Linked DNA regions of Homo sapiens. The protein of the gene in region 2 interacts with the protein of the main gene of each other region in a pairwise test. Each region holds a gene or a part of one and is shown on either strand. Other genes may lie near its edges. The genes, in order: IRS4 and MAGEL2.

Region 1 (11,922 bases), on a different chromosome or scaffold from region 2:
AAAAGAGAGAGCAATACACCAGCTCCCTCTACTCAAGGACTACCAGATTCGTGGGGCATAATTGCTGAACCCAGACAGTCAGCCTTTTCTAATTATGTGAATGTTGAGTTTGGAGTGCCATTTCCAAATCCAGCAAACGACCTCTCAGATCTTTTAAGAGCTATACCACGTGCCAACCCCTTATCTCTGGACAGTGCTAGGTGGCCACTTCCTCCCCTTCCCCTCAGTGCTACAGGTAGCAATGCTATTGAGGAAGAGGGTGACTACATTGAAGTAATTTTCAACTCAGCAATGACACCAGCCATGGCTCTTGCTGACAGTGCCATTCGCTATGATGCTGAAACAGGTCGAATCTATGTGGTCGACCCATTTTCTGAGTGCTGTATGGATATTTCTCTCTCCCCCAGCCGATGTTCTGAACCACCACCTGTAGCTAGGCTGCTGCAGGAAGAAGAGCAGGAGAGAAGACGCCCACAAAGCCGTTCTCAAAGTTTCTTTGCAGCAGCCAGAGCCGCTGTCTCTGCTTTTCCAACAGACAGCCTCGAGAGAGACCTTTCCCCATCCTCAGCCCCGGCTGTCGCTTCGGCTGCAGAGCCGACTTTAGCCCTCAGCCAAGTTGTAGCTGCGGCCTCCGCGCTCGCCGCAGCCCCGGGCATCGGCGCAGCAGCCGCAGCTGCTGGATTTGACTCCGCCTCTGCCCGCTGGTTTCAACCTGTTGCTAATGCTGCTGATGCCGAAGCAGTAAGGGGAGCCCAAGACGTTGCCGGTGGCTCGAACCCTGGAGCCCACAACCCATCTGCAAACCTTGCCAGAGGTGATAACCAGGCTGGCGGGGCTGCCGCTGCAGCTGCCGCTCCGGAACCACCACCTCGCAGTCGCCGGGTGCCAAGACCCCCGGAGAGAGAAGATTCTGACAACGACGACGACACTCACGTGAGAATGGATTTTGCCAGACGTGATAATCAGTTCGACTCTCCCAAAAGAGGTCGGTAATTTTAGAATTAATTTCCCTAAAGTGAATGGTCATTGTCTAATGATTCGATGCGCTACAGTCTACAGTGTTAGGGATACTATTTCATTAACTGGTGCTATTCGACATGGAGTATAGAATTCAGTTTTAATTATTCACAAATGCCTTTTTGATCTTTGCAAAAATTTGTTTTTATCTAATCAATTTCTTTATCTGGACAGAACTGATTATCATTTAAACACTGGTTCTACTTTTTTAGGAGTAGTTAAAACGCAGACATAAAAAGCATAAGGATACTTTTAAACATCCTTCCCCATCATTTAATGATAATGTAAAGCAGGATATCGTAAATTGGGTTCCACCAACTAATTTTCAAATCAACAATTAAAAGCTGCTTTTCTGCAAATGCCCATATTTAAGTGTAGGAATTTAATAAGAGCACAGACTATTAAGCAGTAATAATCAACTATTTATGTTTAGGGAGGATAATTTTCTCCTCTGAAAGTTACTTTTTAAAGAGCAGTCGTTGTTGTGCTAGTTTGCTGTGATTTACCAAGAAAGTTAAATCTCAATTGTTAACGTGAATGTCTGGGGGGAACAAAACATAAATAATCCAAAACAGGAGGTGATTAAAAGAAGACAGTATTTGGCTCTGGAATGTGTTTGTGTGTTGATTTTCTTTTTGTTTTTACACAGGATAAATTCCAGAAACCTTGAGTGTTCCTTTTCTCTGTCACTAGTAATGACAGGCAAGTCACATTTGCTGTGCCTCATTTTCTTCTTTTAACCCCCCACCCTTCTAAAAGAGGGTGTGGTGACAACTTGAGAATGGATATGAATATTATTTCAAAGGTTTAAAAAGCAGTTAAAACATTTAATTCATATATCTTATGGGAAATCAAGGAAAGCAAGATAAGGCTGGAGGAAGACCTGACTCCAGGGGCAGCTTACCCTGGAATGGTGGAAGTTTTTAAAGGGCTACTTTTCCAAAGGAAGAAGTAAGGAAGAGTAGGAGCTGTCAGACTTGGAAACAAGACTTAGAGTAATTCTACTGTGTACAACATTGTGGAATGTTGTCATCAGTGTGTCTTGAAACATTTTCAAGAGATGATTGCAGAGGATGATGTCTCCATAGTCTCAACTACCTTGCCTCTTAAGTAGAATATGCTTCTTTCCCAGTGAAGGGAAGGGATGGACCCCAGCAGTTTTCATTCCAGTAGTCAGTTTAGTGAAGATTTTTGCTTTGCTTGCTTTGTGGAATGCTTTTGTGATTGGATCTCTGCCCACTGTGCTTGATCAGGCAGAACAAGTCGGGCACTGATCACAACAGTCACCTAACAAGCTCCCTATTTAATGCAGGTGTAGCCCCCCCACATCCCCTTTTTCTCCCTGCTATAGAAAACTTGCCATACACAAACTCACATTTGCAGCGTGGACACATTAAAGAGTGATCATTAAAACAACAAAAGGATGCTTTGGCTTGCCAAAGGATTCAATTCAGACCTCTTTTAAACTGTGAGTTCCCTCCCCAACACACACACATACACACACACACAAACACACATGATCACCACTGCTACCATAATCATACGTTTAAAATATATAATTTCATTTCCAAGTCTTTAATCCATAATAAGATTTTCAAGAGTAGATCTACTTTATTCTGTAGAATATACCTGAAAATTGATCTCAATCTATTGTTTGAGTCTAACTATTGAAGACACCATTTATAATTTTGATGTAGATGATACACAGTTGCCTGTGTCCCTGTAGTACTTTCAAAAGGACCAGTTTTCATAGAGGTTTATTTTAAGAAGTTTAAGATTTAAATAGTGAAATCTTACTGTTCCTTGAATAAATTCTGACTTCCCAAGGAATACCTAGACACAATGATCATTATTTTAGCATAAATTCCTGATTTATGACTTTGTAGCTATTTTGGAGATTTAACATTCTGTAAATGCATTGTTTATTGAGGAAATTCCTAGCTTTATTGAGTGACTTTAGCAAGGAAGCTCTATCTCACAGGGAGGCAGGCGCTTAGGTTGAAATAAGAGAATCAACGTGGAAGCACTTTGGAATGTTAAAGCACTTTACAAATGTAAGATATTTTTAGTGTCATTGGATTAATACTGAAGTGAAATTTCGGCAGTTTAAACTGATTCAGTTTCTTGCAAAATAATTGATCTTGAGGGTGATTCCTGCACATAATTTGCTGAAATACATGAAAGGAATGGTGGGGATTGCCGGCGGGGGGGTGCGGGGGTGGGGGTGGTGGTGGTGGTGGTGGTGGTGTTGATGGTGGTGAAACAACCCATTGTAGGAAATGACTTTGGTTAGCATTTTAATGTAAATTGTATGGTAGAATGTTGTCTGTGAAGTGTTAAGAACAAGCTGAATGATTCTGATCCTTTTTTATTGTAAAGCTGTAGAATAATTTTCACTCATTTCTGATCTCTATTTTCCTATCTAACATTAAAACAAAAACAATCACGTTAGGAAACAAAAACATAATGCTTTGACAGAGGAACAAATACCATCTTTATTAGAAGTTATGTATTTCAAAAAGTCATTTTAATTGATGGCAGGTGCTTAGAACAGTGCCTGGCATATAGTAAGTACTATACATGAATTATTTTACAGTTATTGCCATTGTTATTGTTGCTACTGTTATTATTACATTTAGAAAAACAAACCTAAATTAAGATTCTCCATCTGAAAATCTCACTTTTCAGTTAGTCTTTACTTGCATTTAAAATACTTTACATTATTGTTCAGTTGGCATGTTTATAGATTACCATTTAAGTGAAGTGAGATTATAAATCTGTGAGACAGCTGTTCTCATGTAACACAAAATTAATATGTAATTCCATTTACCTACAGTCACATTGCGTATAAGTAAGTACAGTAAAGGAATTTACTCAAGTCGATTAGAAAGAAACACCCAGAAGTATAACCTTAGACATGACTGTATTAATAAATGAAATAATTTTTAATCATTTATTAAAGATGAAGTCTTCACATTTTAAACACATAGGTTATAGGCATTAGCATTTAGGAGAAGAATGTTGTTTCTTATGCAGTTTAGTTTGACTGTTAACCTATGTATGACTATTTGCTTCTTTTTCTACCTTACCTGATGTACAATTCATAGTTCAAAATGACTTGAGGTGAACATTTTCCTGGTTTTTTTATTCAAGAGATGGGAGGATATAAAAGGGCAGCTCTAGGAGGGGTGAGAGAATCGGTCAGCCAAATTAGTAATGTTATGATGGCACTTGGTATTAAAAAGCAAAAAAAAAAAACTTTAGTAATTAATTTTTCAGTGTTAGACACTGTTATCACCATGAAGGAATCATGCTTCTTTTGAGTGTACTACTGCCAAACTTGTTGCTATCAGTTATAGGCACTAAGAGCACATTGTTTTTATTCCATTGAAGTTAATTATTATAAAAATTTCCATATAGCAGAAATTTCCCAGCTACCATTGACGGATCATTTATTTTAGGTAATATTCAACACCTCAAAATTGGACAGTGTTTGGACTAATGAGGTATTTGTCCTCTAACAATTAAAGAGGACTTCACTTAATTAAAGTTAACTAAAGTTGTTCACAATCATTATTCATTTGCATTCATTCTATTTTAAGAGTGATGTTTTCAGGGTAAAAATTTCAACTACTAGCAAAATACTTACCTTAAACAAGGACCAGAACTTTAATTAAGCACACCAGAATGTCACACATGTATAAAAATTCGAACGAGATCTCTTACTTTCTTTTTCTCTCCCTAATCCCCTGTTTTGGGAACAAACTTAGGCTTCTCAGAGTGACAAAAAAATAATTCCTGTGGGAATAGATGTGGCTGACGAGTGTAGGGAGAACTAAGGAATAGTTTATGTGATTTAAAAGGGTCTATTGTTAAATTGTCAAATTGTTGATTGAGGAAATGCTTTCCAGTTGCAGATTGCCTTATAGTTTGCAAAGCACATTCACATTCATTATTTTACTGATGGATGGTAAGTACTGGAAATGAAGCCCATGTTGAGAATTTTCCCAAGATCAAAAAGGTAAGTGGCAGAGCTGAAAATCTAACTCATACATCTGATTTCAAGTCCAGCACTCCACCCAACACATGACACCTCCCTTTAATCAGGTGTTTAGTCTGTTATTTTCCCACTGGTGACAGATTATTACATGGTTAATGATTAGGAAAAAATTACAAGTTTGCTTTCACTTGATAGTAGCAAATTTTGTTGTAAGTAATTCATTCAGAGCATTATAACTGTGGACTATCTTCCAGGACCTGGGTAATTTTATTACATTGAACTGTTTGCCCTGGCTCTTAGAATAAAAGAATTTGACTTGTGCTGGAATTGAATGTTTTAAATCTGATATAGGGAGGAGTTGGTTAATCTTCACTGCCCAAACACAAATAGTGTATGTATCTATTTAGATCCCACAGAAACATTGAAAGGAAAGAAAGTGAATTGAGGGTGCATTCAGTAAATTTCCATTAATGGTCATTTCTTTAACTGAAGTTAGATTTCTTTGATTTTCCTAATAATTCATTGACATTTGGGAGTTATAGCAAAAAGTCTTTTCATTTAATTTCTTCCTTCATTATAAAATTTGGTATTCTGATCTAAATCAGCACAGTAGGCAAAACAGGATAAAGTAAGACAGGTGGAAGAATAAGCAGTGTAGCAATAGACGTTCTTCATTTGTTTAAAAAGTGAACTTGCTTTTGGCAGTCAGGCAAGTAGATTTTAGAAGCCTTGAAAATCAAACTCTCTCCTTGGGACATAGAAATCCCTGTTTACAATTAAGTTCATTTTGATTTAGCACCTTTTTTAAGGCTTTAAGAGTATATAAAAATAGCCCAGACGTTTTATTGGCAGTATTGGAAAATAGCTTTTGTAAAATGCTTAATTAAAACTTTCAGTATATTTTCTCTAAGAGGTGCTGCCAGACTCTTAGATAGTGAGGATCATTTACTAGAAAACGTTGCTTGGTCTTGAATGAGAAATGAGAAATTTAAGACACTGCTTTTTATAATAATGAAATAAATACATCACAAAGCACTGAGTTTTTGCCACAATCATTGGATTGCTGATTTTAAAGCTATTGATAAAATTGCCAAGAAAAATGTGCTTGCCATATGAACTTAAAATATATTCTCCAGCAATTCTGCATTGATTATTGGTAATGTAGCTACAGGTCTCACATTTCCACCTTATTTTGGAAAAATAGACTCAACACTTGAGAAATAGGAATGTTTAAAGATGTTTCTAGTGTAAATTATATACTGTTTTAGATATGCATTTTTAGAGGGTACCTTTCAACTTCTGGCTGAATAATTAATTTCTTTTAGAATGGAAAACATGTACTTAAATACTTATTAAGTGAAATGAGAAAGTTACTGCTATTTTCTCTTAGCTTCCTGATACCTCTTTCTTATTGGTTAGGGTTGCATTGGTTGTGTTCTGTGAGTCTTACCCTCATGTGCCCTTTGCCAAACTTGTGCCCTTGAATTCAGGCAAACATGCCCTTTCCTGGTCTCTCTCTGGCTGAAAAGGTGAGGGCCACTGTGGGAGTCCTGCAGGGCCCATAGAGGGCTTCGCCAGATGTTGATCACTCCCAGTACACAGCCTTCTTGCACTTAGCTTGCAGAGGCAACCTTCCTTGTAGGGATCCTTGTTGTACAGATCCAAGGCTGTGCTGCCTGCCCTACTGTCACTTGGCACAGAAGCAGCTGGGCCGGTGTTTAAAGCTATTTTCATGGTTGGATTGATCACAATATGTTTGATGCCAGCCACACCTTCTGGATTTACCGAATATCTAATTCCCTATATATTGTAGTCACTTTAGCTAGTTTTGACAATTTATATAATTTTTCTCCTATGATTAATAATTTCCTACTTATAGACTTGAAACTTAGAATAACAGTGAAGTTTCCATCTCACAATTAATCTTGAAAATTGCTCACATGTGTATCCATGGGGCCCTTGAAAGTCTGACCAGCAAATGTGATTTTTTACTCTTGCTTTTTAAAGTTTTATGCCTCCAGTCTTGAAAGCTTACCAACCTTGTCCTCGCACTCAGAGTCCTGTGCCCCCACCCACCTCCATGATGAAGTCCTTATTGTTGCTGCAGCTTTTACCATAGTTTCCCTTCGGCTGTCACCCTGCCTCCGACTCTTCCAACTGGTTGAGTATGGGGGACACAATTCCTATTGCCATGGCTGGAAGACATATATTCCTGGAGTCTCAAACTGAAACTTCACATACATCTTCCCTCAGAAATGATGACTGGGTATAGTCAAAATAGTTCTCTGTTAGTTCAGGAGTTGCATAGGTTAAATATAGGCATATCTAGACAAAGCTATAAACCTATCCACCATTAATTTATGACATTGTTTCTACAAGATAATTTATTCTGAGTTTCAACTAAACAATGACCTTGGAATATGTCTGTTTTGTAAATTTGAAACTGCCTATATTAGAATTCTAGTAACTTGCATTCTTTAAGTTGGCAGTAACTAGGCAGCAGAGTGAAGTGGCCCATGTGTGTGTTGGGAAGTAGTGGAGAAGCTGACCTACCATGAAAATCCTGTAGCTGATCTCCATAGAGTTTGTATCCAGATACTCAAGACTGGAATGCACATGCATAAGTGGCCCAGGGCCTGCTAACAAAGGGCAGGTGTAAAACGATTGAGCTGACCTTTGAGGAGATGGGGGTTTACAAGTGTCATACATTTCCCTTACAGATTCTTTTGAGCATTCTGTCCCAAAACTATTGCCATTGTGGGAACAAAGGTATTTTATCATCCGATCTATGAAGGAGATAATAGTCTGGTATAATTGGTGTTGTAAAGACTAGCAGCGATTATTACTAGTTTTTAGCCTTGAGCAATAGCACTTAATTTTATCAAGTCCTAGAGAGTCATCCTCCTCTACAATCACAGGGCACAGAAAAGTATGATGATCCTTTCTTATTGAGAAAAAACAAAAAAACCTACATATACTCCAGAGACAATGCTAAGCTAACTAATATAATTGCATTATTATACATTCATCTTTGGCATGTATGCTTCAACATATCTTTCTTTGCTTCCCTTTTTTTTTTTTTTTTTGGTGCTTTACTTGGTTGCCCCTGCTTATGTGAGCTCCAGTTGATCACAGGGGTGCAGGGATAGCATGTTGTCAAATGAACAGAGTGAGGAATTTGCAAAAACCCTTGAAAAACATTTTTGAGCTCCAGGAAAATTGGAGCTGAAAAGATAACTAAGACAATAAGTTTGCAGAAAGGGAAAAGAGAATGAGAGAATAACAATATATTGTTATAGGTTCACCTTTCTCTGAGCAGAGGAAATACTGCTGTTTCGGACTTCAAAATGTAATAGAGGCATATTTATGATTCATATAAAGAGGTCTGAAATACCCTGGAGGAACTGCCTACTTGGCTCACCCTACAAATTTCCAGGGATATTGAAGTCATCTGTGCATTATTAGCGTATTAAAGATTAATGTTCAGGTTTATATCATTATATAACTCGAAACAGAAAAGTTTACTTCATTTGTTTTTGAGAAAAAAAAGTTCCCTGCCAGATTTTGGTAGGAGGAGTAGGGAAATATTTTGACTCATCAGAGTCCACTGAGGTTTTCTATATTACAGAGAAAAATTACCTGAAGAGTATACCACCCATTAAAAAGGGTGAAATTAACTTGTTGTTTAAAAGACCTTTGATTAATTGGGAAAATAAGAATATACAATAAGGTAAGTATTTATAACCTGTCAGTATCAAATGGGAATAATACATCCAAAACAGACCACATTATTACAAGCATCACCATTTACCTTGCTGATGGTGAAATCACATAAAAATGAACGGGAGACAAATCTAAGGTATGACTTTTAGCCCTTTAATATTCATTTTGCAGACTGTTCACAACCAAGTTTTAATCTCGAATTGCTTTCCTTTGCCACCCAGCAAGCTTCTGAGTTGCTTCCTTACGCTGTTCTTTGGAATGTGCCCCGGGAATGTAAACTCATTTTAATATTGGCCTAAGTAAAATAGGATTATAAAGGCAAATCTGTGGCTCAAGTTCCCATAATGCATTTCAAAAGCAAGTTAAATTATTTTGGGATTATCCTGTTTGGGATAACATTATTCCTTTCTACTAGCATAGTTAATCAAGAATTGACAAATGTATTTTGTGAAGTAAACATGAAATTACACAATTATTTGTCACTTTTTATTAAGTTACCAAACATTCACTTAATGCTGGTGTAGGTGTTATAGGAAAGCAATGGCAATATGAATCAAATTTTAGTAGAGGCTCTGTCATTTAAAAAAAGGAAAGAGAAAGAAAAACAACTCCAATAAAAGCAAATGTTCCTAATCTTAGTATAATGCCAATAGGGTAGTTATATGGAGCTTAATTTGCAGGTTTCTGGGAAAATATATATGAAATCCAGTGTATCATATAAGACAGCAAGAAGTCCCTTTTAAAGCACATGCAATGTGCTATATATGGACATATGAAAATATTTTTGGTATTAAAACAAAATAGTAAACTAAACTAGGTGAAATACCTTCCTAACCTTAAATATCTATTTTAAAATGTAGCTGATATCTGATAACACTGTAATACTGGTACTGGTCTAGCCTAATTTTGCAGCGAATTAACAGTTACTAATATGCAGTCTCACAGTTAACTGTGGTTATCACAGACTCCTTTCTTCCTGTGTAGAACTAGATACATAAAATGTAAAATTTCCTAAACCCACTGCTGACAGGAAAGCTTAATACCTTTACTAATCTATGGCATTTTTTTGAGACAGGGTCTCACTCTGTCACCCAGGCTAGAGTGTAGTTGCGCGACAGGGTTTCACCATGTTGCCCAGGCTGTTCTTGAAATCCTGGCCTCAAGGGATCCACCTGCCTTGGCCTCCCAAAGTGCTGGGATTATAGGCATGAGCCACCATGGCTAGCATTTTTTTAAACTTCTAATCTACAAGAACAAACCTATACATTGAATCTTAATGAAGAGACACAACTAGTAAGAGGGAAATGTACTGTTCCCACTCAGTGCTTCATCCAGCTGCAAATTTGTTACATTTTAAAAATCCTTGAGCCCAGGAGTCTGGGTGGGGCTGCAGTGAGCCATAATGATGCCACTGCTCTTCACCCTGGGCAGCATAGTGAGACCTCATCTCTTTAAAAAAATTGTAAAACCTTTGATGAGAAAATGAATACTTAAAATGTATATTTCCAGTTTAATAGACAATCTTGTACTTGAAGCCCACTCTGGGGGATGTTTTCCATGGATTCTTTTAAGATGTCTCAAATAAAATAGAATACTTGGTACTTTGTGGTGACCTGATCTTAAGGTAACACTGGCATCCCATAATCAATTTGCTGATCATTTATTCCTATCCCTTCTCTGGTCCAGCACCTTCTTCTATGTATCTGATCACCCCCTGCCACACTCCCCATTATGCACCCACTCAAAAGCAGAAAGCCAAGAGAATAATGCTGGAACTTTTTTCTTTTATTAAACAGATGGGAATTTCAAGTCTCCTTTGCAGGTATGACTTTGTTCTATTAGAAGAAATTCAATGATTGAGTCTAGAGACCATCACCAATGCTGTACTTAAATCCTATGACTTGTGCCACATAACCTGGTGAAGGCAGAGTCAAACATGTAGAAGAAGAAGAAAAAAATCTGTTTCTCTGCACAATGCCTGGCTCACTCTTGGGCTCCACTGGAAGAAAGTAGAACAGTGCACGCACGTGCAAAGATGCTGTCCACCAGAAATGTCAGTGACAGCCTGGGGGCAAGAAGAATAACTGCCCTTGTGTCTTTGCCCAGCTGATATTCCTCACAGGCAGCCAGCAGAGTTGATTAACCATGTCCATGCCCAGGCAGTCTCCTCTGTATATCTCTCAAAAACTTCTAGTTAGATTTTGTTTTGTTTTGTGTTGTTTTGTTTTAAAACAGGGTGGGGGTGACAGCTCTCCACATTAATTCTGCAAGTAACTTTTGTTTTATTATCTTTTTCCTAGAGTGATTATATTGCCACAAAAACACATTTTAGAAGAAAAGTGATGCTTATGGAATTTTATCTTCGTCTACTCCAGATCTGCCTAAAGGAAAGAAAACTCAGAGGCTTCTGAGTAGAAAGCAACCCAAATTTCTACAAGCCTACAAGTGGACTCTGGCAATTGAATGATCCTATTCATGCAGATCATTCATACTGCTGCTTATGGATCCAGTGATTTCTAATTAACAATATTTACACTGTGCTTTGTTTTTTGTTTTCTGGTTTTCCTCCCCAGTCTGTCCCTTTGAAAGGAAACAGATACTATACAAGTGAGCATCTCATAACTCTTTCCCTCTTTAAAAAAAAGTAACTTAGAATACATATAAATTTGGTCAATGCCAATTTTAATAATGTAAAATATTTAGATTCAATTTTGAAGTTGAAAAACTTTAAACCAGGGCACATAAAGAAAAAACAGCTGTCATAATTGGAAGGAAGGTATGATCTGGAATCTTTTTTCCGAGTATTACACACACAAAACATTTCTTGATCAATGAATTAAATGTCAACTGAACTGATATCTTGATGGGGCATTACCAGTATTTTAAAGGCAGGACTAAAGGGCAGATTATTTCAAGTTTTGCTCATTAGCAAAACTGCAACATTCTGCTCATGTTATATGTCAATGAAACTAATATCTTGATTGAGCATTTCCAACATTTTAAAGGCAGAACTGAGAAACAGCTATTTGTTCACATACAACACTGTGATGTTCTGCCTGAAAATCGATTGAGTATTTCCAAACCTATTATTTTTCATTTATTGTGAAACCTACATTTACCTCCTAAAAGAAACAAAGCTCTTCAAAAGTCTCTTCCCAAGGCCCCTCCCTGCTTCTCTGGGC
Region 2 (12,821 bases):
TGCCTGTAATCCAGCACTTTGGGAGGCTGAGGCAGGCGGATCACGAGGTCAGGAGATCGAGACCATCCTGGCTAACACGGTGAAACCCCATCTCTAATATAAATACAAAAAAATTAGCCGGGTATGGTGGTGGTTGTCTGTAGTCCTAGCTACTCTGGAGGCCGAGGGAAGAGAATGGTGTGAACCCGGGAGGCAGAGCTTGCAGTGAGCCAAGATCGTGCCACTGCACTCCGGCCTGGGTGACAGAGCGAGACCCCATCTCAAAAAAAAAAAAAAAAGTAACCTGCACATGGATGTTTATAACAGGTTTGTTCGTAATGGACAAATCTTGGCAGCAACCAGGGTGTCCTTCATCAGGTGAATGGGTAAATAAACTTCGGTACATCCAGACAATGGAATATTATTGAGCATTGAAAAGAAATGAGCTATTAAGCTATAAAAATATATGGAAGTTAACTAAAATGCATGTTATTAAGTGAAAGAAGCCAGTCTGAAAAGGATACATACTATATGTGTCCAACTAGTTTACATTCCAGAAAAGATAAAACTATGGAGACAGCACAAAGATCAGTGGTTGCCAGGTATCTGCAGGGGAGGGGAGGGGATGAATAGGTAGAACATGGAGGATTTGGGAGCTAGGAAACTATCCCGTGTTATACTATAATGGTGGATGTATTACATTAGACATTTGTCAAAACACAGAATGTACAATACCAAGAGGAAACTTAATGTGAACTCCAGACTTTGGGTGATAATGACATGTCAATTGATGTTCATCAGCTGTGAGAAGCATACAATTTTGCTGGAGGACGTTGACATTGGGGCAGATCGTGTGTGTGCTGGGGGAACCAAGGGGTGTATGGAAACTTGCTGTAGTTTTGGCTTAATTCTGCTGTGAACCAAAAACTGCTCTACAAAATAAGGTCTATTTGATAAGAAGAAAAACATGAGTTACCAGGCCACAAAATTAGGAATATTAAATGTGTATTGCTAAGTGAAAGAAGCCAATCTGGAAGGCTACACATTTTATGATTCCCACTACATATGATATTCTGGAAAAGGCACAACTATGGAGAAGGTAAAAAAAATCAAAATTTGCCAGGGGTTTGGTAGGAGAAAGCACAGGTTTTTTAGGGCAGTAAAATTCTTCTATATAATAATGCAATGGTGGACACAGAAATCTGTTATCACACAATTGTGATAACCCATTTATCACACAATTGTGTGAAAACCCATAAAATGTATACATAAAGAGTGAATACTAATGTAAACTAGGGAGTTCAATTAATGATATTGGCTCGTTGACTGTAACAAATATACCGCTCTAACGCAAGACATTAAAAATAAGGGGCATTGCCAGGGGTAGGGGGACAGGGATGGTGGGAGAGGAGAGGGGATACATGAGAAGTCTCTGTACTTGCCTCTCATTTTTTCTGCAAACCTACAACTGCTTTAAAAAATAATCCATTAATTAAAAAGAAAAGACACAAACAAAACTCACAATAAATGACATACCATTTCTCATTTACTGAACTGCCTAAAATACTGAAATGCCTAAAATAAAAATGGCTGACTGACTGTATCAATTTTGCAATGATGTGGATCCATTGGAACCCTCATATTTGCTAATTGCAGTGTAAAACTGCAATCACCATTTCACATCCAGTTGAATAACAAAAATCAAAAAAGACTGACACTACAAAATTTTGCAAGGTTGTCAAGTACCTGGAATTCGTATGCATTCTTAATTCTTAACATTATTCTTATGTTAGAGTGTAAAATGGTCTAACCCAACTATGGAGAACTCTTACAGTTTCTTATAAACAGCCGTCTATCCTATGACCCAGACATTCAACTCCCAGGCATTTACCCAAGATAAATGGAAGCATATATTTACAAAAGGCTTGTAAAATAATTTGTAATGCAGCCTTTTTCTCATAATAGCATCAGATTTTAAATGTCTCACATGCCAACAGGTAACAGATAAATTATGGAGTTATAAATACAATGGAATACTTTTCAGCATAAAAAATAGCAAACTTCCAATACTTGCAACATATTTACATTAAAAAATGTTGAACAAAGGAATATTGACCTCTATCTGTGTGTCTTTCTCTCTCCCTCCCTCCCTCCCTCCTACGCTGATTCCATTTTATGAATTTTTAGAACAGGCAAAATAATCTAGGGTGAGAGAAATAAGGAAGTGTATGTTTTTGGAGATAGAATAATTGACTGGAAAAGGGTGCACGGTAATTTTGTTTGATAATAAAACTATTATTTATATTGTTTTGAGTGTTAATTACTCAGTGGCAAAGCTCATTAAATTGAATACTTTAGATCTGTGCATGTTGTTGCATGTTAATTATATCTAACATATTTTAAAAGGTTTTGGCAGCCCTGGTGTAATGGTAAGAGTGATGGGCTGGGCACAGTGGCTGATGCCTACGGTCCCAGCACTTTGGGAGGCCAAGGTTGGGGGCTCACTTAACCCCAGGAGTTTGAGGCCAGCCTGAGCAAAATAGTGAGACCCCATCGCTACGAAAAACAAACGAACAAAAATCACCTGCGTGTGGTATGGCCTGTCTGCAGTCTCGGCTACTCAGGAGGCTGATGCAGGAGAATGGCTTGAGCCCAGGAGTTTCAGACTGCCGTGAGCTATGATCATACCACTGCACTCCAGTCTGGGTGAGAGAGCAAGACCCTGCCTGGTGGTCAGCGGCAAAAAGAAAAAAAAAGAATGCAAGCTCTCACAACGAATAGATTGGGATTTAAATCTGAATTCTGATATGTATTGCTAGATCTTCTGAGCCTCAAATTCTTGCCATGTAAAATCAAGCCAAATACTTATGGATTTTGTGAGAAATCAATGAATAGAGTCTATTATACTCTGAGGATGGTATTTTATCAAATAATAAATTGTTGATAACTAGTAGTTACACTATTTTAATCCTTCCAATTCTTTTTTTTTCAAACCTCATACTTATGATATCTCCTATGCTTTTTAAATAATTTTTCTACTTAGACTGTCTATCTGGATCACATGAATCTTTCACAGCCTCAGGTTTGTTTTCTTTCTTTTCACTGCTACAATCAGCATCACAGCTCCCCTCACCCCATGTTCCAAGCAGAAGTGAGTATTTGATTATTTTCATCCTCTATGACCAATATGAGGTTTAAACAATGCGACAACACCTTATTGTACTAAAAAACCATATGAATATCCCTATATGACTAACAATAGATTCGTGAAATGTCCCTATGTGACTAACGATAGATTAGATTAATGTCCCTATGTGACTAACAATAGATGTAAATAGGACTTGCATCAGATTTTTCTCTGTAGTCTTATCTATAGCACAGTGCTGGGCATATAGTGAATGCTTAATAAAAGGTATTTCATAAATAAGTAATTTTAGAGTTTATGAAAATCATAACTGATTTTGTTACTCACTTATGAATATTTACACAAAGTCTAACAGCTACAGAAGATTGGAAGACAGGCAGTTCTGGTGCTAATCTTACCATTTCATTTTGTAGCTCCTTAGTGACCACTCAATGCGAGCTGGGGATACCAAGGTGAGCAAAACAGGCTCCCGTCTGCTCCTAGTTCCGCAATTTTCCTACTCCCATCACAATACTTCAGTTCTCCCTTCCCTGTTTTTAAAAATCATTTTGTATACTGCTGTTATATACTGACGTAAGCCATTAAAAGTCCTTTCTAATTAGGGAACAGAGGCCAACATTTCATGGATGTTTTGTATGTTTTTCCCTTTTGTTTTCTACTCACCTTGAATTTTCAAGCTGTTTCATATAAAAGTGAGGAAAGGGAATTTTGACAACACTTGGTTCAAAGGTGTTGAGGAGGAAGAACATATGCACAGAAAGGGAAAGAGGGCTTCAGGAAGCAGGAAGGTTTCACAGGAGTGATTTGGGAAGACCCAACACTTGTGGTCTAATGCCTCACTAGACTCAGGGCAATATTATGTTTTGCTGTGATTAAGGCAGTCAGTTTTCAAAAACGACCCGTATGTCCCTGTTTCCTCAGGTGAATTTTGCTCACAAGTAATTTGTAAATAGCTAGGGAGAGCCCCAGGAACAGCCTGGGTCTGAGAGCACTGACTATCTGAAATAAGCAGATGTTTCTTCCAGGGAGAATAAACTGGGTTTACCCTCTTTACTTGTTCCTATAGAATCAATGGATACATAATCTCTGATTTTTCCCTGCCGGTTAAAGAATGTTTCCAAGCAGTGGCAATAGTGCTGGTGTAGAAGTTATTCATCTTCCATTTCTAACTACTCCTACGCACCTGTTTTTTCCTTTGTATAATGCCTAATCTTTTCTTTCTGGCTTTGGTGTTGCCTCTTAACATAAACCGGACCTCTTTTCATAGAACAGATTCGGTGGGAGTTGACACTGTATGTCAGTGCTATTCACTGACCTCCAACATCAGTGAGAATAGCCAGACCCTAGTGGGAGCCATTCATTGTGTGGGATGACCAACAGCATGGTGGACGGCAGGACAAACCTGTCATAATTCCCGAAAATAAACGGTTAGTGGGAGAACTTAATCTCTGTGTAGTTTATACATTTGCATTAGAGTGGAAAAAAAGTATGCTTTAGAAATGCCCTAGGCTAAAAAATAAACTGATTTTTCCAAAGCCATCCATAGCCAGTAACAGCCATGTAGCAGAGTTGATAATAGCAGGTCCTGAGGGTTAGGCATTTAGAGTTTGTCCTTCTACAGTGTTTCCAAACCCCCATGAAACTGAGAAATCCTGTGTGGATCTGGGCCATTAACCCAAGGGAGAAACGAAAACCATGAAACACGGTAGTATCCATTCTGCAGAAGCTTTTTGTGTGCTGTGGTAGATGGCCTTCTCTGGGGATACACAGGAGTGATGTCCAGTAGTCCACCCTTATCCTTGGGGGATATATTCTGAGACCCCCCTGTGGAGGCCTGAAACTGGAAATAGTACTGAATCCTATATGTACTACGATGTTTTCAACTGATAGCCGAGACAGCTACTAAGTGAATAACAGGCGGGTAGCATATACAGCATGGATACACTAGACAAAGGGATAATTCATGCCCCAGGCAGGACGAAACAGAACAATTTCATAATACTACTCAGAATGGCATGCAATCTAAAGCTTATAAATTATTTCTGGAAATTTCCATTTAATTTTTTGGACTGCATTTGATTGCAGGTAACTGAAACCACACAATGTGAAACTGCAGGCACAGGAGTGCTACTGTATTCGCTACCTGCTCATTAACCACTTAGTAGCTGCTTCAGATATCAGATCTACCATCGGTTTCCCAGTGTTTGTGTTCAAGGAACCCTTGTTTTACTTAGTAATAGCCCCAAAATGTAAGAATAGTGATCCTGGCAATTTAGGTATGCCAAACGGAAGCTATGAAGTGCTTCCTTGAAGGAAAAAGGTGAAAGTTCTTGACTTAATAAGGAAAGAAAAAATCGCATGCTGAGATTGCTAAGATATATGGCAAAAACAAAACTATCTGTGAAATTGTGAAGAAGGAGAATGAAAGGGATACATGGTATATATAAGGTTTGGTGCTGTCTCCAGGTTCGGGCATCGAGAGTTTTGGAATGTATCCCCTGCAGGTAAGGTGGGGGGGGCTACTGTATCATCAAGCACCCTTAAAAATCTGACTGTTTTGAAAAGAGTTTCCTGGGAATAACAACATCCCTTAAGTGTCCAGAAAATCACTGAAACTTTACCCCCAAATTCTTCTATTATTGTTTAAGGCAATAATAACATTGGGAGTGTGTACATACCTTCTCTTGGGTCCATAAATTACCAAATTTGAGGACCCCTGGCTAAGGGTACCTGGGAAGGAGTGGGGTGTACCCTTCATCGTCCTCATCTGCCCCCTGGTGGCACGTTTTGTCACTCTGGACTCCTGCCGTAGGCTGCCAACAGCCTATTTAAACGAAACATCCTTGATATTTAGTGCTTTGTATATTTCCAGAAAGCTTTTCAATTACTGAGATTATCACTTCCTCTCACCATAAAGTTGTATAGCATTGCCCAATAATACTATTGTCATCTGCTTTATCTGTTAATACTTGATTTGTCTCATATTTAAACTGATTTTTGTCACGAGAAGTTTCCCCAGAAATTTTTTTATTCTTTGCCTGTTTTTCCTATATATCCAAATATATCAATTTTTGATCTATTTATATACCCATTTTGTTATCTTCAGGTGCGTTATTTGGTTTTCATTTTTTAAATTTCTTTCCCATTCTGCAGATGAAAAATACTGAGAAACCTACTCTGTTCCTGCATCCGAGCCATTCCACAGGCAGTTTTCCCATACTAAAAATGCTGTCTTCCACTGATGTGTGGCATGTCTCAGTTCCGTGACTTCTTTTCCTCTCTCTCTACTCGCTGCTGTCCCTTTTCTCCATGTGTCTCTAACATGCCTGTGTTCTTCAAGACCCAGTGCAACCACATTCCCTCCCACAACTCTATTTTCATGAGGAATAGCCAAGCAGGACTCCCAAGACATCATACAGGAGTGCCTACAGGGTATCTCTCCTTGGCAGTCCCACAGCACCGCAAATGCCCTGTGTCTGCCAATACTCATCAGCCTCTCTTCCCGTGTGCCTCTCCTGGGACCCTAAGAGAGTAACAGTCCCTGCAACTTCCCACTTTCTCCAGGCAGGGACTTGTGTGCCTTTTCCATGTCTTTGACTCCTTTATTCAATTATAATACAGGTATCTGTCTGCTATAACTCCTGGAACTCTCTTATGTAAATGCGCTTTTTTCATTCTCCGCCTCACATCTTAGCCCAGACCACACCATCTCCCCCCGCCGTCTTGGATACCTTCCATGTTTCCAGTGGTCTGCTCCCACTCCACACTGCAGTACAGTGATTTTTCTAAAACATGGATGGGTTCCTGTCACTCCCCTGTGAAAAGTCATCCATGTGGAGTCTGACTGGTCTGCATTTGGGGACTGGACAGAGTGAGAAGGGATCCTGTGTCAGCCAGGACTCCGGTAGACGCCCCTATGCAATATCCACTTGTGGTGGTCGGGGGCGGGGAAGGGGCGGGATTGAGCCCCCTTCCCCCCTCCTCCTTACTGCGGAAAGCTGCGGAGCGAGCAGCACTCACTTCCTATTCAGCATTCAGCAGGGAGGGAGCCTCTGAACAGCCACGTAGGCATTCTCTTCTCTCTGGAGGAAAAGGCCCAGCAGCTGTCCGAGGAAAAGACCCACCAGCTGTCAGCAAAGGGACATGTCGCAGCTAAGTAAGAATCTGGGTGACTCGAGTCCTCCGGCGGAGGCCCCGAAGCCGCCTGTCTATAGCCGCCCTACGGTTCTGATGCGGGCCCCGCCCGCTTCCTCCCGGGCTCCGCCAGTCCCTTGGGATCCACCTCCAATTGACTTGCAGGCTTCATTGGCCGCTTGGCAGGCACCTCAGCCTGCCTGGGAGGCCCCACAGGGCCAGCTGCCCGCCCCGGTGGTTCCGATGACCCAGCCTCCTGCCCTAGGGGGCCCGATAGTCCCGGCTCCCCCGCTGGGGGGCCCGATGGGTAAGCCTCCGACTCCCGGGGTCCTGATGGTGCATCCTCCACCTCCGGGAGCCCCGATGGCCCAGCCTCCGACCCCGGGAGTCCTGATGGTGCATCCTTCAGCTCCCGGAGCTCCCATGGCCCATCCTCCTCCTCCGGGGACCCCAATGTCCCACCCTCCCCCTCCGGGGACCCCAATGGCCCATCCTCCTCCTCCGGGGACCCCGATGGCCCATCCTCCTCCTCCGGGGACCCCGATGGTGCATCCTCCTCCTCCGGGGACCCCGATGGCTCATCCTCCCCCTCCGGGGACACCGATGGCTCATCCTCCCCCTCCGGGGACACCGATGGCTCATCCTCCACCTCCGGGGACACCGATGGCTCATCCTCCCCCTCCGGGTACACCGATGGCCCAGCCTCCAGCTCCGGGAGTCCTGATGGCCCAGCCTCTGACTCCGGGAGTCCTGATGGTCCAGCCTGCTGCTCCGGGAGCACCGATGGTCCAGCCGCCTCCAGCAGCCATGATGACCCAGCCTCAGCCTTCAGGAGCACCGATGGCCAAGCCTCCAGGTCCAGGAGTCCTGATGATTCATCCTCCAGGTGCGAGAGCTCCGATGACCCAGCCTCCAGCTTCAGGAGCACCGATGGCACAGCCGGCGGCCCCACCTGCACAGCCGATGGCCCCACCTGCACAGCCGATGGCTTCTTGGGCCCCGCAGGCTCAGCCTCTGATCCTGCAAATCCAGTCTCAAGTTATAAGGGCTCCTCCGCAGGTTCCCCAGGGCCCGCAGGCACCCCCAGCGCAGCTAGCCACACCCCCGGGCTGGCAGGCGACCTCGCCAGGATGGCAGGCCACGCAGCAAGGCTGGCAGGCCACTCCCCTGACTTGGCAGACCACGCAGGTCACCTGGCAGGCACCAGCCGTTACCTGGCAGGTGCCGCCGCCCATGCGCCAGGGGCCCCCGCCCATCCGCCCTGGCCCACCACCCATCCGCCCTGGCCCACCACCGGTGCGACAGGCCCCACCGCTGATCCGCCAGGCCCCACCGGTGATCCGCCAGGCCCCACCCGTGATCCGCCAGGCCCCACCCGTGATCCGCCAGGCCCCCGCTGTGATCCGCCAGGCCCCACCTGTGATCCGCCAGGCCCCACCTGTGATCCGCCAGGCTCCACCTGTGATCCGCCAGGCCCCGCCGCTGATCCGCCAGGCGCCGCCGCCCATCCGACCTGCCCCACAGGTCCTGGCCACCCAGCCACCGCTCTGGCAGGCCCTGCCACCCCCACCTCCACTGCGGCAGGCCCCGCAGGCTAGGCTGCCGGCCCCGCAGGTGCAGGCGGCGCCGCAGGTGCCTACGGCCCCACCTGCTACGCAGGTACCCGCGGCGCCGCCCGCTGGCCCGCAGGTGCCCCAGCCTGTGCTGCCGGCCCCGCTGTCTGCCCCACTGTCTGCCCCGCAGGCTGTGCACTGCCCTTCCATCATCTGGCAGGCCCCCAAAGGTCAGCCCCCGGTGCCACACGAGATTCCAACGTCAATGGAATTCCAGGAGGTGCAGCAGACACAGGCGCTGGCCTGGCAGGCCCAGAAGGCCCCCACTCACATCTGGCAGCCCCTGCCTGCCCAGGAGGCCCAGAGGCAGGCTCCCCCCTTGGTCCAGCTGGAGCAGCCCTTTCAGGGAGCCCCGCCCTCCCAAAAAGCCGTGCAAATCCAGCTACCCCCCCAGCAGGCCCAGGCATCGGGTCCGCAAGCGGAGGTGCCCACACTGCCGCTCCAGCCTTCCTGGCAGGCACCGCCTGCAGTCTTGCAGGCCCAGCCCGGACCCCCGGTAGCAGCGGCAAATTTTCCCCTGGGCTCCGCTAAATCATTGATGACTCCATCAGGAGAATGCAGGGCCTCTTCTATAGACCGCAGGGGCTCCTCTAAAGAGCGCAGGACCTCCTCGAAGGAGCGCAGGGCCCCTTCAAAAGACCGCATGATCTTTGCTGCCACCTTCTGTGCTCCCAAGGCAGTGTCAGCTGCGCGAGCACACCTGCCAGCTGCCTGGAAAAACCTGCCTGCCACACCGGAGACCTTTGCTCCCTCCTCAAGTGTCTTCCCAGCTACCTCCCAGTTTCAGCCTGCCTCTCTGAATGCCTTTAAAGGCCCCTCTGCTGCCTCAGAGACCCCAAAGTCACTGCCATATGCTCTGCAGGATCCCTTTGCCTGTGTAGAGGCCCTGCCTGCAGTTCCATGGGTCCCACAGCCCAATATGAATGCCTCAAAGGCATCGCAGGCAGTGCCCACCTTCCTGATGGCTACAGCAGCTGCCCCCCAGGCAACTGCCACCACTCAAGAGGCCTCCAAGACCTCCGTCGAGCCGCCACGCCGCTCCGGCAAGGCCACCCGGAAGAAGAAGCATCTGGAAGCCCAAGAGGACAGCCGTGGCCACACGCTAGCCTTTCATGACTGGCAGGGCCCAAGGCCCTGGGAGAATCTAAATCTGAGTGACTGGGAGGTCCAAAGCCCTATCCAGGTCTCGGGTGACTGGGAGCACCCAAACACCCCCCGTGGCCTGAGTGGTTGGGAGGGCCCTAGCACCTCCAGGATCCTGAGTGGCTGGGAAGGGCCCAGCGCATCCTGGGCCCTGAGTGCCTGGGAGGGCCCGAGCACCTCCAGGGCCCTGGGTCTCTCTGAAAGCCCAGGGAGCTCTCTGCCCGTAGTTGTGTCTGAGGTCGCAAGTGTCTCTCCGGGATCCAGTGCCACCCAGGATAATTCCAAGGTGGAGGCACAGCCCTTGTCTCCCTTGGATGAGAGGGCAAATGCGTTGGTGCAGTTCCTCTTAGTCAAGGACCAAGCCAAGGTGCCTGTCCAGCGCTCGGAGATGGTGAAAGTCATCCTCCGAGAGTATAAAGATGAGTGCTTAGATATCATCAACCGTGCCAACAATAAGCTGGAGTGTGCCTTTGGTTATCAATTGAAAGAAATTGATACCAAAAACCACGCCTATATTATCATCAACAAGCTGGGCTACCATACAGGGAATTTGGTGGCATCCTATTTAGACAGGCCCAAGTTTGGCCTTCTGATGGTGGTCTTGAGCCTCATCTTTATGAAAGGCAACTGTGTCAGGGAGGATCTGATCTTTAATTTTCTGTTCAAGTTAGGGTTGGATGTCCGGGAGACAAACGGTCTCTTTGGAAATACTAAGAAGCTCATCACCGAAGTGTTTGTCAGGCAGAAGTACCTAGAGTACAGGCGAATCCCTTACACTGAGCCCGCAGAGTATGAGTTCCTCTGGGGCCCTCGAGCATTCCTGGAAACCAGCAAGATGCTTGTCCTGAGGTTTTTGGCCAAGCTCCATAAGAAAGATCCACAGAGCTGGCCATTCCATTACCTTGAAGCGCTCGCAGAGTGTGAGTGGGAAGACACAGATGAGGATGAACCTGACACCGGTGACAGTGCCCACGGCCCCACCAGCAGGCCCCCTCCCCGCTAATAGGTGTAGCAGAGATCTCGCTCCTGTGTTTCCCTGGCCAGAGGCCACTGACAGGGTGGGGGGACATTTTTGTTCCTGGTGTTTGTGTTCCAGTTCCACGAGTGTACGTTTGGATTTTCAACTTGGTTTCGTATCTGCCAAAGCTTTGTACATTTTTTATGTGGTGTTGATTTCAATCGGCTACTGTTCTGTTCTGTATTTTGGCATCTGTGTTTTTAAGTGAGATCTGTGGTTCTCTGTTTTGTGTTTTAATTGTTATGTTTTGGTATCAGCTTTGTGCTGGCTTTGTGAAATGAATTGAGAAGCTATCCATCTCATTTCTGGTATAGTTCATGTAGCATTGTAATCGGTTGTTCTTTGAACGTTCAAATGACTCATCAGTAAAAACTGTCTACAGAGAAGTAAATATCTATATCTATATATATAAATATACTTTCAGCATAACAGAAGTGTTTGTCTTTATTCTAATTTTTACACTAGATGGTGGAAGCCAAGTTTTGCCGTATTCTCTGAATAGACATGAATAGCAAGACTACTCTCAGTTATAGTAAAAACCACGGTGATGGAATTGTTTTCCAAGGAGAGTACTCCATTCATCTTTATAAGGATGCAGTGATTTCAGTGGGTGGTTATACATAAGATTTCTCCAGGAGATTAATTAAAGCACACACGTTAGTGCCCAGCTGGTAACGTTGTTATTAGAAGCAGAAATGTCCTTAAGGGTATGTGGAGAAGAAGGGCCATCTGCCTGCAGGACTACAAATAACCAGGTGGTCCCGCTTCATGGAGAATTTGGCCAAAAGGGTATTTGTCAATCATGTGGCCCGTGGCGGGGTGTCCAGCAGTTCAAATTTGGGTTTCATCAACACACTGCTACCGGGATGGAAACGTGCTCCCTGCAGGATATCCAGGCTTATAACAGGGAAAAGGAAAAAACAGTCTTCATTTAATTAGAAACCCTGCAGATTGCCAGCAGTAGTGGCTGGGTTAGGGGAGGGCGTGGCAGGGTGCATTCCTATCAACATAGAGTTCTAGGGGAAGGTCCTGGGGGGAAGGGTCATTCTAACTTGTAGGGGAAGGCAGCCGGCAACGCCTGAAGTTGCTGAACAACCGCGGTCAGCCCTTGGCTATGAACCTGGTCTAGGCAGGAAAGGGACAAGGGAATGAACTGGCCTGAGTGTTTTGAGGAAGGATATTCAAGCACACACCAGGCTGGTGTACACAAAAGGACGTTCTTGTGGTCATACTCTCTTCCTGTGGACAGGGGACCATCAGCCCTACTTGCCACCGCATACTGTCTTATCAGAAGGAAGAAATCCAATCCCATATCCCGCTTCTAGGGTGAAGCCAAAGTCCCAGATGCGGTTAGTGGCGATGGTGGAATTCTCCTGCCACCTAGCGGCAGATTAGAGGTGCCACCGCAGCTGCCGCAGCAACAGCCCCTCCCACAGTGCTTAACTTCACAACCATGTATATACTTGGATTGCAGCTACTCCTTGCTTCACCACTTTTGCTCATAATTTTATCTATATCTGTGCCCAGAGATTCCTTCTTTTCTCTTATAGGCCAAGGTAGCATCTGTTTTCAAGTCCAATCCGCTCTTCACTCAACAATTTCTATCCTTGGTCCTGCAGCGCTGCCACTTAGGAAGCTGACTAGGAGAGGAGCCCACAAGATGCAGACTCTACTCCTAGCACCCGCAGAACTGAGCTTTCCAGGACGATGATCCCCGCCCCAGGACCTGCCAGGCCGCAGGAGCTCTTTCTCAAGTTGTCTAAGTGGTCAGGTAGTCCAAAAACTGGGA

What was found.
Region 1: the proteins of MAGEL2 (region 2) and IRS4 interact in a two-hybrid assay, tested with the Homo sapiens proteins (one study listed by BioGRID).

Annotation. Positions count from the first base shown.
Region 1 is NC_000023.11:108,721,642-108,733,563, reverse strand, and holds part of IRS4 (insulin receptor substrate 4), read left to right. Parts: coding exon 1-985; coding exon of another isoform or gene 986-993; exon of another isoform or gene 994-1,067; intron 1,068-1,666; coding exon of another isoform or gene 1,667-1,671; exon of another isoform or gene 1,672-10,536; coding exon of another isoform or gene 10,537-10,562; exon of another isoform or gene 10,563-11,040; coding exon 11,041-11,045; coding exon of another isoform or gene 11,046-11,151; 3' UTR 11,152-11,922. UniProt on the Homo sapiens protein: Acts as an interface between multiple growth factor receptors possessing tyrosine kinase activity, such as insulin receptor, IGF1R and FGFR1, and a complex network of intracellular signaling molecules containing SH2 domains.
Region 2 is NC_000015.10:23,642,189-23,655,009, reverse strand, and holds MAGEL2 (MAGE-like protein 2), read left to right. Parts: upstream 1-7,142; 5' UTR 7,143-7,267; coding exon 7,268-11,017; 3' UTR 11,018-11,461; downstream 11,462-12,821. UniProt on the Homo sapiens protein: Probably enhances ubiquitin ligase activity of RING-type zinc finger-containing E3 ubiquitin-protein ligases, possibly through recruitment and/or stabilization of the Ubl-conjugating enzyme (E2) at the E3:substrate complex.